3 linked regions of the Homo sapiens genome follow. The protein of the gene in region 3 purifies or fractionates together with the protein of the main gene of each other region. This does not show direct contact. Each region holds a gene or a part of one and is shown on either strand. Other genes may lie near its edges.

Evidence for each region.
Region 1: the proteins of ZNF704 (region 3) and SUDS3 purify together in Homo sapiens (co-immunoprecipitation; 3 studies listed by BioGRID and IntAct, with this or other methods). This does not show direct contact.
Region 2: the proteins of ZNF704 (region 3) and ARID4A purify together in Homo sapiens (co-immunoprecipitation; 3 studies listed by BioGRID and IntAct, with this or other methods). This does not show direct contact.

Annotation. Positions count from the first base shown.
Region 1 is NC_000012.12:118,414,443-118,418,578, reverse strand, and holds the end of SUDS3 (sin3 histone deacetylase corepressor complex component SDS3), read right to left. Parts: 3' UTR 546-4,136; downstream 1-545.
Region 2 is NC_000014.9:58,361,007-58,364,663, reverse strand, and holds part of ARID4A (AT-rich interactive domain-containing protein 4A), read right to left. Parts: coding exon 3,622-3,657; coding exon of another isoform or gene 3,562-3,621; intron 495-3,561; coding exon 1-494.
Region 3 is NC_000008.11:80,627,831-80,630,903, reverse strand, and holds the end of ZNF704 (zinc finger protein 704), read left to right. Parts: 3' UTR 1-2,453; downstream 2,454-3,073.

The sequences.
Region 1 (4,136 bases), on a different chromosome or scaffold from region 3:
AATCTGTTTTTCCCCTCCCCAATTAGTCATATCCTTTGCTGCTAGCTCTTTGCATTCCTGGTCAATCCCTAGCCTATACCAGGTACCTGGCTCTTCTAGAACAACCATGGAAGGAAGCAGCTCAAGAGCTTGAAGGTTAAGGTACTTAAAATAGAGAAAACTAGTTGGGAGGAGTAGCTGAAAGTCTAAGGGGCTTGTGGGTTCTGGGAATGTTATTTCTTGATCTGGATGCTATAATAGTTACATGGATGAATTCACTTTGAGAGATTTCAACAACTTCTACAATTAAAACTTGTGCACATTTCTGTCTAATTCAAACATTTTAAAAACAGAAACCACCCCTCTCCATCATCTAAAGCATAAAGCAGTCTTTCCCAAAGGGGTGCCATAACTGGGTCACAGGTCGGTCACCTGTGGCAGCACGCAGGCTTGTTGGCTGACCCCGGGAGCAGTACAAATACCATCACTGTTTGGTTAAGATTGGTAGGCACTATCTCAAAAGCCAGGAACAATATCCTCCTTAATCATGCACCAAATGAACAATATCCTCAATCACAAGTTTATTTCAAGATTGTTTTTCCACCCAAGATCCATTCTATTCACTTGATTTTTAATGACTTTTATCTGCAACAAGAAGAGTGCACAAACATTTAAGGGTCAACACCCCAGATTGCTCTTTACAAAACTGAGTATTAGCCTGACATCATTCTGTATCTTAGTCTTCACTAAGAATTAAATGTCTAGAATATCCCTTCCTCTGCCCTAACTTCCTTTCCCCATAAGCAATGGATCAAAAACCTAAAATAAATTTCTATCACTTATCAAGTCAATGGATACAATACAGACTTCATGCTGGTTTTCTCTTTGAAAGTTTATTGTTTTCTTTAAAAAAAAAAAAAAACCTATACCTTTTATATTTTACATTCACCTCTCAGAATATTTAATGGTACCCGTTAACGATGTTATAAAAAAAGACCATCACCTGCTTGAAATGGCTGCAAATTTACCATGTTCTGGCATTAAAGTGATTTCAACTCTTTGGACAAATTGGTGTAACAGTAAGCACCGAGATTTCAAATTCCCAGATGAGAAAAAAAAAATTAATCAGGAGGAAATTTATTTAGTAAAAATTCAAAGCTAAAGAAATGTGAGAAGGAAGCCAAACCCAAAAAACTGTAAAAAATACAATCTTCTCTCCAGAATTAGGTTAAAAAATACAGTCAACCCCATTCTAAACCCCATATTTCTTAGAAAAGTCACCCAGTCCTGAACACAGGGTCTTATACACAAATACATGTAGCTTGATTTGCAGATCAGCCTCTGGGATCGACCTTACACTGGCCCCAATTAGAAGTTCAAAAACAAAAATTAAGTTAGGTAGTCAGACATCTATAAATACTAGTATCCGCATGAATGAAAACACCCTGGCTTTGGTATGGCTACAGAAATCCATCTGGAAATTATTCAAAAGGACGTGGTTCAGGGAAAAGGGGGTAGGCAGGGCATGGGGGGAGGGGAACACACAAAACCCCCAAGCAGAGGTAAAATGAATATTGGAACACACCCGCAGCAAACACTGTACATAGACTTGAGGCAGATGCCTCTAACACAACACATATACAGGTTCTTGATCAAAATGGTCTGGACCAACCTTTTTCAAAGTAATCACCTGCAGGAAAGAGTTTAAACTTGGAAATTCATCTGGTGCCCTGGGGTCTAGTGAGAAACAATGACCTTTTGGAATAATGGCCACCCAGGCTAGAAGCTAGCCTCCTTCTCGTCTAGAAACTTCAAAGTCTGTCTTCCCCTTTAGTAAGGCTTCTGCCCACCACAGAAGTACCCCCATCTACTAACAGGAAGGCTGCTTCTGTTCCTGGTCACCACTGAGGCCTGTCAGGCTTCAACTGCTGATTTTTCACCTCTGGGGTGACAAAAGAAAATATTAAGTCCTCTGGGATTAGAAATGTAATTTACTATGCTGATTCTCAAAATGGACTTCTCACCTGCCCCCATTTTCACTAGGCCCAATTAAGAGTTGTGAGGACGCCGAGGAGAAGGCAATGGCGGAGTCGAGACTATGACTAAGGGCGCCCTCAATACCCTCAAAAGTCAGAGAGGAGAGAAGGCAAAAGTGCCCATACCCTGGTCTTCAAATAAATAGTTGCTTCACAAAAGCAGAGGTCCCACAGAGAAGGCCAGAAAAAGAGGCAATTTGTTCCTGCTTCAATGCGGAACCCCAGTGGTTATCAATACAATCCTCAACTATAAAAACAAACTTTGGTATACTGTTTAGGAGGACAAAACACATGATCATTGAAAAACTCCACCTTCAATGGAAAAATACATGAAATATATCTAATTTCCATCGCAGGGCACTACATGAAAACCAACAGCTGCACAATATGTGATGTGACACACACATCGTATGTGTAACAGTTCAAGCGAGGGAAGTCCTGCCTCACAGTCAAGGCTAACAAACAAGAACAGGTGAAGCCTGTGTTTACCATGGGCTGGGTTCACTGTAGTAAACATCATAGCAGTCGGGGATTGGAGGGCAGAGAAGAAATACAGAACCCCAGGCAACTTTTGATAACAGCGTCATTTATCCTGTTTTCTAAATAAGACTCCAACACCAGAAAAAAAAAAAAAAAAGAGGAAAAAACGGATTGTAAGTTAAAACAAAAATCTATCTGTATAAGTCTTTACTTGTACAAGTCTGTACAAGTCAGTAAGGTTTGGTCTCTGCAGAGCCAGAACTTCAGAGAAGGTGATTTAATTGTCATCACAGTCCCCCCAACTTGCTTGGGGGTATGTACATCAAGAGACAACATGAAGAGAATCACTTGAGACCAAAAGAATTACTTACAAAGAAAGATTTCCTAGGATGTGTAAGTTCTACTGATTGCTCATAGAGACGCTAACAGTTGCTCTAACCCCAAATTTTTTGAACATCTCAAGATGGCAACATGAGTATAGAAAACCCCAACACTCATCACCCAATGAATCATTTCTCCAATCATGGGAGTGAGGGAAGGATGTAGGAAAGGCTGTTTCATCAGGACTCATTAGGGAGGGTGTCAGTCCAGAGGCAGCCACAGCAGAGCTTTCCTTGTCTTCAACCTGGGCCAAATGAAGCTGTGAGCGCTCAGGGCCTGACAACAAAGTTCTCCACAGGTTTGGAATGGCCAATGTGCAATAATGGCATCAGCCACAAGAGTGAAACTTGAATCGTGCATGAGGGTCTATAGATCACTGATTATTGCACTATCAATCTCACCTCCCACCCGTAAAAGATTACCCAGATAATCAGCCTGTGGCACATACTTACTACTACCTACTTGGGAACAAGGGAGAGGAAGGAATTACAAATGAAAACTTCTGAAATGACCACTGCTTATTCCAGCTTAAGCTAGAACAAATGTTTGAATAAATCACCTGCATTAAATAACATTTAAAATATGGTACCTTCAGCACATTATAAATATGAAATGTCCCCTCCCCCAACCCCATTTACTTCAGTGCACATAGTCTTCCAGGCAAGCTTTTCCATCGCTCAGCGAGCGGAATGGATGGTGTGCACAGATGTTACACAAAGCATTTATTTCTCTGAGAAGGCCGAGAGCCACGAGAATTCATCATCTCCTGCTAGGACCTCTGCCCCAAGCTTCTGGGCAAATAGTGAATTGGACGCGACAGGGAAAGTAGCTACGTGATCCACTAATCAGATTCAAAACATGAAAATGCACTGGAGAGTGTATCCCTTCCTGCTCTTCTCCATGGTAGAGAGACTTAAAGATAATCAATAAAAATAGCTGTCCCTTCAAACTCAGAGGAGGTTTTCAAAAACAAGTATAAGCAAAAAATAAAGAAATAAAAGGAAAGTAAATCAAACCCCCCAATACGCCTGAAAGTAAAACAGTCTCATGGTGACTGATGTCTGGAAGAAGTTGAGGCAGAAAAGACTGACAAAGTTGGAAGCATCCGGCCACAAAAGTGCCCTAAAGAATTCACTGCAGTGCTCTCCATTTCCAAGGCTGAGTAGCTATTCCCAGTAAGTTAACATTTTTCTATTAAGGAGAAAACGAAACAAAACAAAAATAAAACCCACTCCAGAAAAAGGGTCAAGAGAAGAGCAC
Region 2 (3,657 bases), on a different chromosome or scaffold from region 3:
TTTCCGTTTCAACTTCTTTTCTTTCACACATTGGTCAATTTCATCTTCTGTAGCAGAAGAAAAGTTTTTATTGTCTAATGAAGACAATTCAAGACTATGAGCTTCTATATGAGGTTCACTTCCTGCTTCATTCTGGCCAAATGATGAAATCTTTATAATTTCTAAAGAAAGATCTTTTGTCTTGCTTCGTCTTCCCTTTCCTTTTGGAGATTTTTCGGCTTCTTTCTTAACTTCTTCTGTTTTTTCCATTTTGTTCCCAAAAATCTGTACTATTTGTTCATTCTCTCCAACTTCTAACTTCAGGGTTTCTAAAGGCTGCATTTGAGTCCTATCATTTTCTTTTAATATATGTGCAGAAATCTTTGGATTTTCTTCATCTAGCTTATCATCATTCAAATTTTCATTTTTTTCTAGTTCATCTTTAAGAGAAAGTTCTTCATTTATTAAATTCTTTTCTAAAGCATCTTCTGTTTCACTATCAGATGAACAAGAGTCTGTAAGAGGAAATATTATTATATTATACAGGTTTTTATATTACCAATGTAATTTTACAATAAAAATCTTACCAAAAATAACAATAAAAATCTTTAATCATGTACCTCTGAATACCTCCCTGTAGAAATTTCTGAAATAAAACAAATCATAACATTTGTGCCAAGAATTTGAGGGGGAGGGGAAACTAAGCTCCAAGCAAAAATATATTACGTTGCATATTACTAACTCAAATCTATATGAAAAGCTATTTTGCAACATTCCCCAGTATCATATTTAGGTACAATAGTCCTTAAAAAAGATCAAAAGATTAGTACCTAGACATCCTAGACATGAAGTTAATTTGTTAAGTGGTTTGAGATAGTATCTAGGAAGGACAGATGATGGGCATTTTGTACCCTAAGAAAGGAATATGACATTCTACTTAAAATAACTGTGGAAAGAAAAGGTTTTTTCTTTTCTTTTCTTTTTTTTTTGAGACATAGTCTCACTTGGTTGCCCAGGCTAGAGTGCAGTGGCGTGATCTCAGCTCACTGCAAGCTCCGCCTCCTGGATTCAAGCATTTCTCCTGCCTCAGCCTCCTGAGGAGCTGGGATAGGCGCAGGCCACCACGCCCGGCTAATTTTTGTATTTTAGTAGAGATGGGGTTTTGCTATGTTGGCCAGGCTGGTCTCAAACTCCTGACCTCAAGTGATCCGCCCACCTCAGCCTCCCAAAGTGCTGGGATTATAGGCATGAGCCACCGTGCCCAGCAAGAAAAGTTTTTAAAATGGGCAATTGGAATCCTCAAAACTTTAAATATTCTTAACAGACAAGAAAGTACAGGAAACAAAAATTGTTCCCTGTAAGGGAACTTGTAAAATAGTAAAGTAGGGTTCTAAGACTGTATAGGATCTAAAAAATATAAAAATATTGTCCACATGGTGCTCAAATCCTCAAGAAGTTCAAAACTGCAAACATGAATTTTTTAGTGAAAAGGTGTATACAGTTTTATTTTGTGGTTTTATCATAAACAGAATGTAGAATTCATTTTCATGTTTTAAAAAATCCCTTTCAGTGGTAGTTTAATAAGGCTGGTATGTAGTTGTATAGACTGGACACTGCACACAGGTATGCCTTCTAAGAGGGTACCTTTCACTTTGTGGACATCTTAAACATTTGTCAGCAGATGGCAGTAAAGAGGAAGGATGTCCTTTTATAATTTGCACACAAGCACCATATGGACTAATAGCAAACATGTAGTTCAGTATAGCTTTTTTCTTGAAAGAAGAGAAATTTTTATATAAGACAACCATTTAAAATTTCTTTTTTGGTGGCCGGGCACAGTGGCTCACACCTGTAATTCCAGCACTTCAGGACGCTGAGGCGGGTACATCACTTGAGGTCAAGAGTGCGAGACCAGCGTGGCTAACATAGTAAAACCCTATTGCTGCTAAAAATACAAAAATTAGCCAGGTATGGTGGTGCACACCTGTGGTCCCAGCTACTTGGGAGACTGAGGTGGGAAAACTGCTTGAACCCAGGAGGTGGAGGTTGCAGGGAGCTGAGATTGCGCCACTATACTCCAGCCTGGGCAACAGAGTGAGGTGGGGTCTTGCTCTGCTACCCAGGCTGGAGTGCAGTGATGTGATTACACTTGCTGCAGCCTTGACCTCCCAGACTCAAGCAATCCTCCCACCTCAGCCTCCTGAGTAGCTGGGACCACAGGTGCACACCACCATGCCTGGCTAATTTTTAAATTTTTTTGTAAAGATGGGGTCTCACTATGTTGCCCTGGCTGGTCTGGAACTCCTGGGCTCAAGTGATCCTTTTGCCTCAGCCTCCCAAGGTGCTGGGATTACAGGCATGAACCACTGCACTCAGCCTAAAATTTCTTAATTACATTTAAAAGTATACAGAGGTAGAAAAGTGGGGGAAACGAGTACAAGCAGAATAAAATATGTTCACCTATACTCATTATAAAACATGCCTGCACCACAGTAGTCTGTGTTCTCTTAGAACCACATGGTCTCAGCTTTGCTGAAAGATCCCAGATGAACAGCATTGAATTTATAGGATACACTGGTACAGGCTTTGAGGGAAAGTGTAGCACACATTAGGATGCATGGATTGTCAATTCACCTTCTATTAAAATATATTATTTTCAAGATACTTATGAGAAAAAGTATTCCTAAATGAAAACATCACTAAATTTTAGATAAAAATGATACAGCAAAATATTTTCTTCAAATCAAATTTTATAGTTTAAATCATATGAGATTAAAATCCTAGGTGATTTACAGGTTGAACACCCCTAGTCCAAAAACCTGAAATCCAAAATGCTGCAAATTCCACAACTTTTTGGGCACCAACATGACACCACAAGTAAAAAATTCCAGACCTGACCTCATGGGACACATTGCATCCAAACACAGGTGCACAACAGTTTCTTCAGCAACCCCAAGCTAGTGTACGGGTAACCTTTTAATGAAAACACAGCATCGTAGGTGGAGACTGAAAGCCTGCTGTTTGTTTTTGCTGTTGTTTAGCAGCTGATACAGGTATTCTAGTGATGCTACCTTGCTGCTTAGTTTCCCCACACAATTTTTCCACTGTATTAATTGTAAGTCATATGTTTTACTGTTATGTAATTATGTGTGAATAAGTGTAAGAAAATTGCTTATCAGTAGCTGGCATATAAATTCAGAGTCAAGAATAACAGTGATGCCAAACAATCACAGACTGTTCACATGGGTGGCTGAGACAATTATACCTGTGATTTCTGATGGTTCAAATAACACAATCTTTATTTCATGAACAAAACTATTAAAAATATGGTATAAAATTACTTTCAGGCTATGTGTATAAGAAACACTAATTTTCATGTTTAGACTTGGGTCCTATCCCTAGGATATCTCATTATGTATATGCAATATTAAAAAAAAAAAATCAAAAACCAAAAACACTTCTAGTCCCAAGCATTTTGGGCAAGGGATACTCAACCTGTACTGTGAATATTTCACACAATGGAAGTTTTATTATTTATGTTATTGATTTTTTTTAAAGTCAGCCATCCTCAAAATTGAGCACCTTCCATTCCATTTGACAGAGGTGAGCTGTCTGGTATATTGCTGCGAGCACTTCTGGTACCTGATTTTCCTTCACTGTTTGCTGTCTTAGATAAGC
Region 3 (3,073 bases):
CATACATGTTTTTTTTAAAAAAAATCCCTGAATCAATATTTTCCTACAACACACCCTAAAATTCCTATTTTTGTAATTAATGGTTGGACAGTGATCAGCCATTTAAACATAGGCTTTCTGGAATAACCAGACACTAGAATAGTTTCCAAAGTGTTTTGCGTATCAAAATCCTATATACTTAGAAGAAGAACTCAGGATAAGAAAAAATCGCTAGGTCCCAAAGGGTTCATGACTATCATCAGATGCAACTGCGAGTGGCCTACGGTCATTTTTTCAAATGAGAAGACTGGAGAGAGAGAACAACAGTAATCACAAAACCTCTGTTGCCCTTAGTCCATGACAATGTTTAAGGAAACTTTAAAAAATTAAGCCATCTTCTGAATTGTTTTCTACACCAAATCTAAAATATTAAAATGAAATTATTAAATATTTAAAATGGGGTATTTAGTGGAAATGCAATCAGTAGAAAACATTGCTTTTTAGTGCCTGCTAAACAAGTAAAGGAGAAAGAATGAAGAGAAAACAGCAGTCCTTCCTGTGTGACACTCGTGTGGAAATGACAGGCATTCACATGTCATTGAGTGCTAACTCAAAAGCTAGGTGGCAATGCTGTCCAATGTTTAGAGATCTTTTGAAATATAATTTTACCACCATTCAGAGGTAAGTACTTGCTTAACAGAAGTCTTTAATGTTAGTGAATGAATGTATAAAATTATAAACTATGCATTTTCAAAGAGTAGCATGTATTTTGTATCGAATCCAAGTAAATTTTTTTCATAGCTACCTACCACAACTGCAAATTATTCAAAATAAACTTGGATACATATCCTTATGGGGATATGGGAAGCCCATCTATATTCTCCTACTTGATGTTTTTAAAGATTGAAACTTTATTCTGAAACATCAGGCTCTAAAAAATTCCATCATTAAGATGAATAAATGGGAAATGGTTTATTTGTTACTTCGTAAGCATAAATGGGAAATGTTGGCTGTTAGAAAATGTGCCCAGTTCTTTAAAGGTGGATGTTCTAGTAACACTGGATTAACAAGCAAACAAAACTGCATGAAGTGAACGAATATTTCATTGGATAAAGTTAGCATAGGTTTTATCTGCTGGGTTTAATTCTCAATCCCAGAAAAAAATATTCTTCAAGGGGTATCAGTTATAGTTTCAAAGAACAAAATATGAAAATATTGTCCAGCAAAGCAAATCATTGATCTTTTTTCAAAATTACTTATATTTTGGAAAGTCTATATAGAATATCCACAAATTTCTTCAGCCCTCTTGTTGATTTCATATTTTCATGAAACTTTTTCCCCTAATAATTTGTCTTCGCTCTTTAATCAGTGCTTTACTACATTACTCAGCCTGAAAAAATATCTTTTCCTTCATCTGACAATGTGGAAATAAAGAACTCCATTTCTGTCATTCTGGTTCTCTTCAGTGTCCATTGAGAAAGTTTCTCAACTGTTTGTAAAATACGGGGGGAAAAAAACACGCATTTCTAAACCTGGTACTTAAGGTTATACTGGATTGTTTGCTACCTAATTAGAAGTTATTGGGGAAGGGGCATTGTGTCTTTTTATATGATTTTTAGCCAAATCCAGATGTTCTGATACACATTTCTGAATACCTGTCTGACTGTAAATACAGCCTGTGGAGGTTCAGGTTGATAAACCTTTCACCTGACTGCTCCACAGCCATGCTCCTTGCCAGCTTCTGGCACATTGTACATAGATTTGTTGAATGTTTAAATGATGTTGTTTTTCTAAATGCTGTTCTCTAAAACAATTTTTTGAATTTCTTTTGCTTTCCATTGTTTTGGACTTTGTGTGTTCGTTTTTTAAAAAAAAAAATGTTTCCTAAATATTTAACACCAGGAAAAATATTTTTAAATACACTGGTGCTAATTGAAACAGAAGGAAATTTTCAGATCGAAGATGTACAATGTTAAATGTTCATACCAGTTAAACTGCACTTTCCCAAGGGGACAGCTGGCATCTACTTGAAATGGGCATCAAGAGACCACCAAATGTTTACAGTTTCTGTGGCCCGTTTAAGTGTAAAATGCAGAAGTGGCTCTGTCCCCCCAGAGTTAAGGATTTGCTACACTGGTCCTCTGGAAGCATTTAAGTAGAAGAAAAGGCTTATAGTCAGAATCACTTTAGTAATCGTCTTCTGGTCCTTGGACTTTTCTGTTCTGTAATGCTTGTAACAATGAATATGGTGTTGCCAATCTAGTCTGATATCATTGTTGACCTGTACTTACTTTGTGGATGGTTCTACCTGGGGTTGCACTGGCACAAACAGAGCCAGAACACTGGACTTTCAAAAGACCATTTTGACTTCTACAGTGTCCACACACATGAATTTAAATGCACTTGTAACTGGTTAATTACCATGAAGTAAGTCTAACTTCCACTTAATAAAAGTTTTTGTGTATCTGCTTCTATTCGGAGACCAATTTATTTAATTAAGGATAACTATACCAAGAAAGTCTCGCTGGGGCTTGGGGTTTTACCTAGAGTTGTAAAAATAGTTCAAAACCAAGGAGATGTCTTCATCATCAAGGCCATTTTTAGAAACATGTGGAAGGCATGTGTCCTCAGGTTCAGCCCTGCTAATGACAATTTCAACCCATTCCCTTAGCAATGATTGTCCAAATATGTTAGCTGCTGACCCTGTGCTGCTGACTGTTGTCCCAAGCAAGTAGGCAATGTGGCAAACAGAGGGAAAATAATACCTATTTTGAAGCTAAGCCAGCCTGGAATTGTCATCCTCAGGCCTCGGGCTCCCGAAGGTGGGTTTCTGCAAAGTTGACTTTCAGTGCCCACATGTTTGCCGTGGAGGAGGGATGGGCATAGCAACCTCCACATACTGTGCTCAGACTGTAAGTGCGCCTCTCCCAAGCCCTCTGCTCCCAGGCTCCCAGAGGCCCTCCAGGTCTCAGTGACTGGGACACGGCAGAACCCTCAGGGGCAGGGCAGCCGAAAAAGATATTGAGAATCTGGGTCGTAGATGCTGTCCTGCACAGTTGTGTGGAAAGCATAAATTTGCAAAATAAGTTTTTAC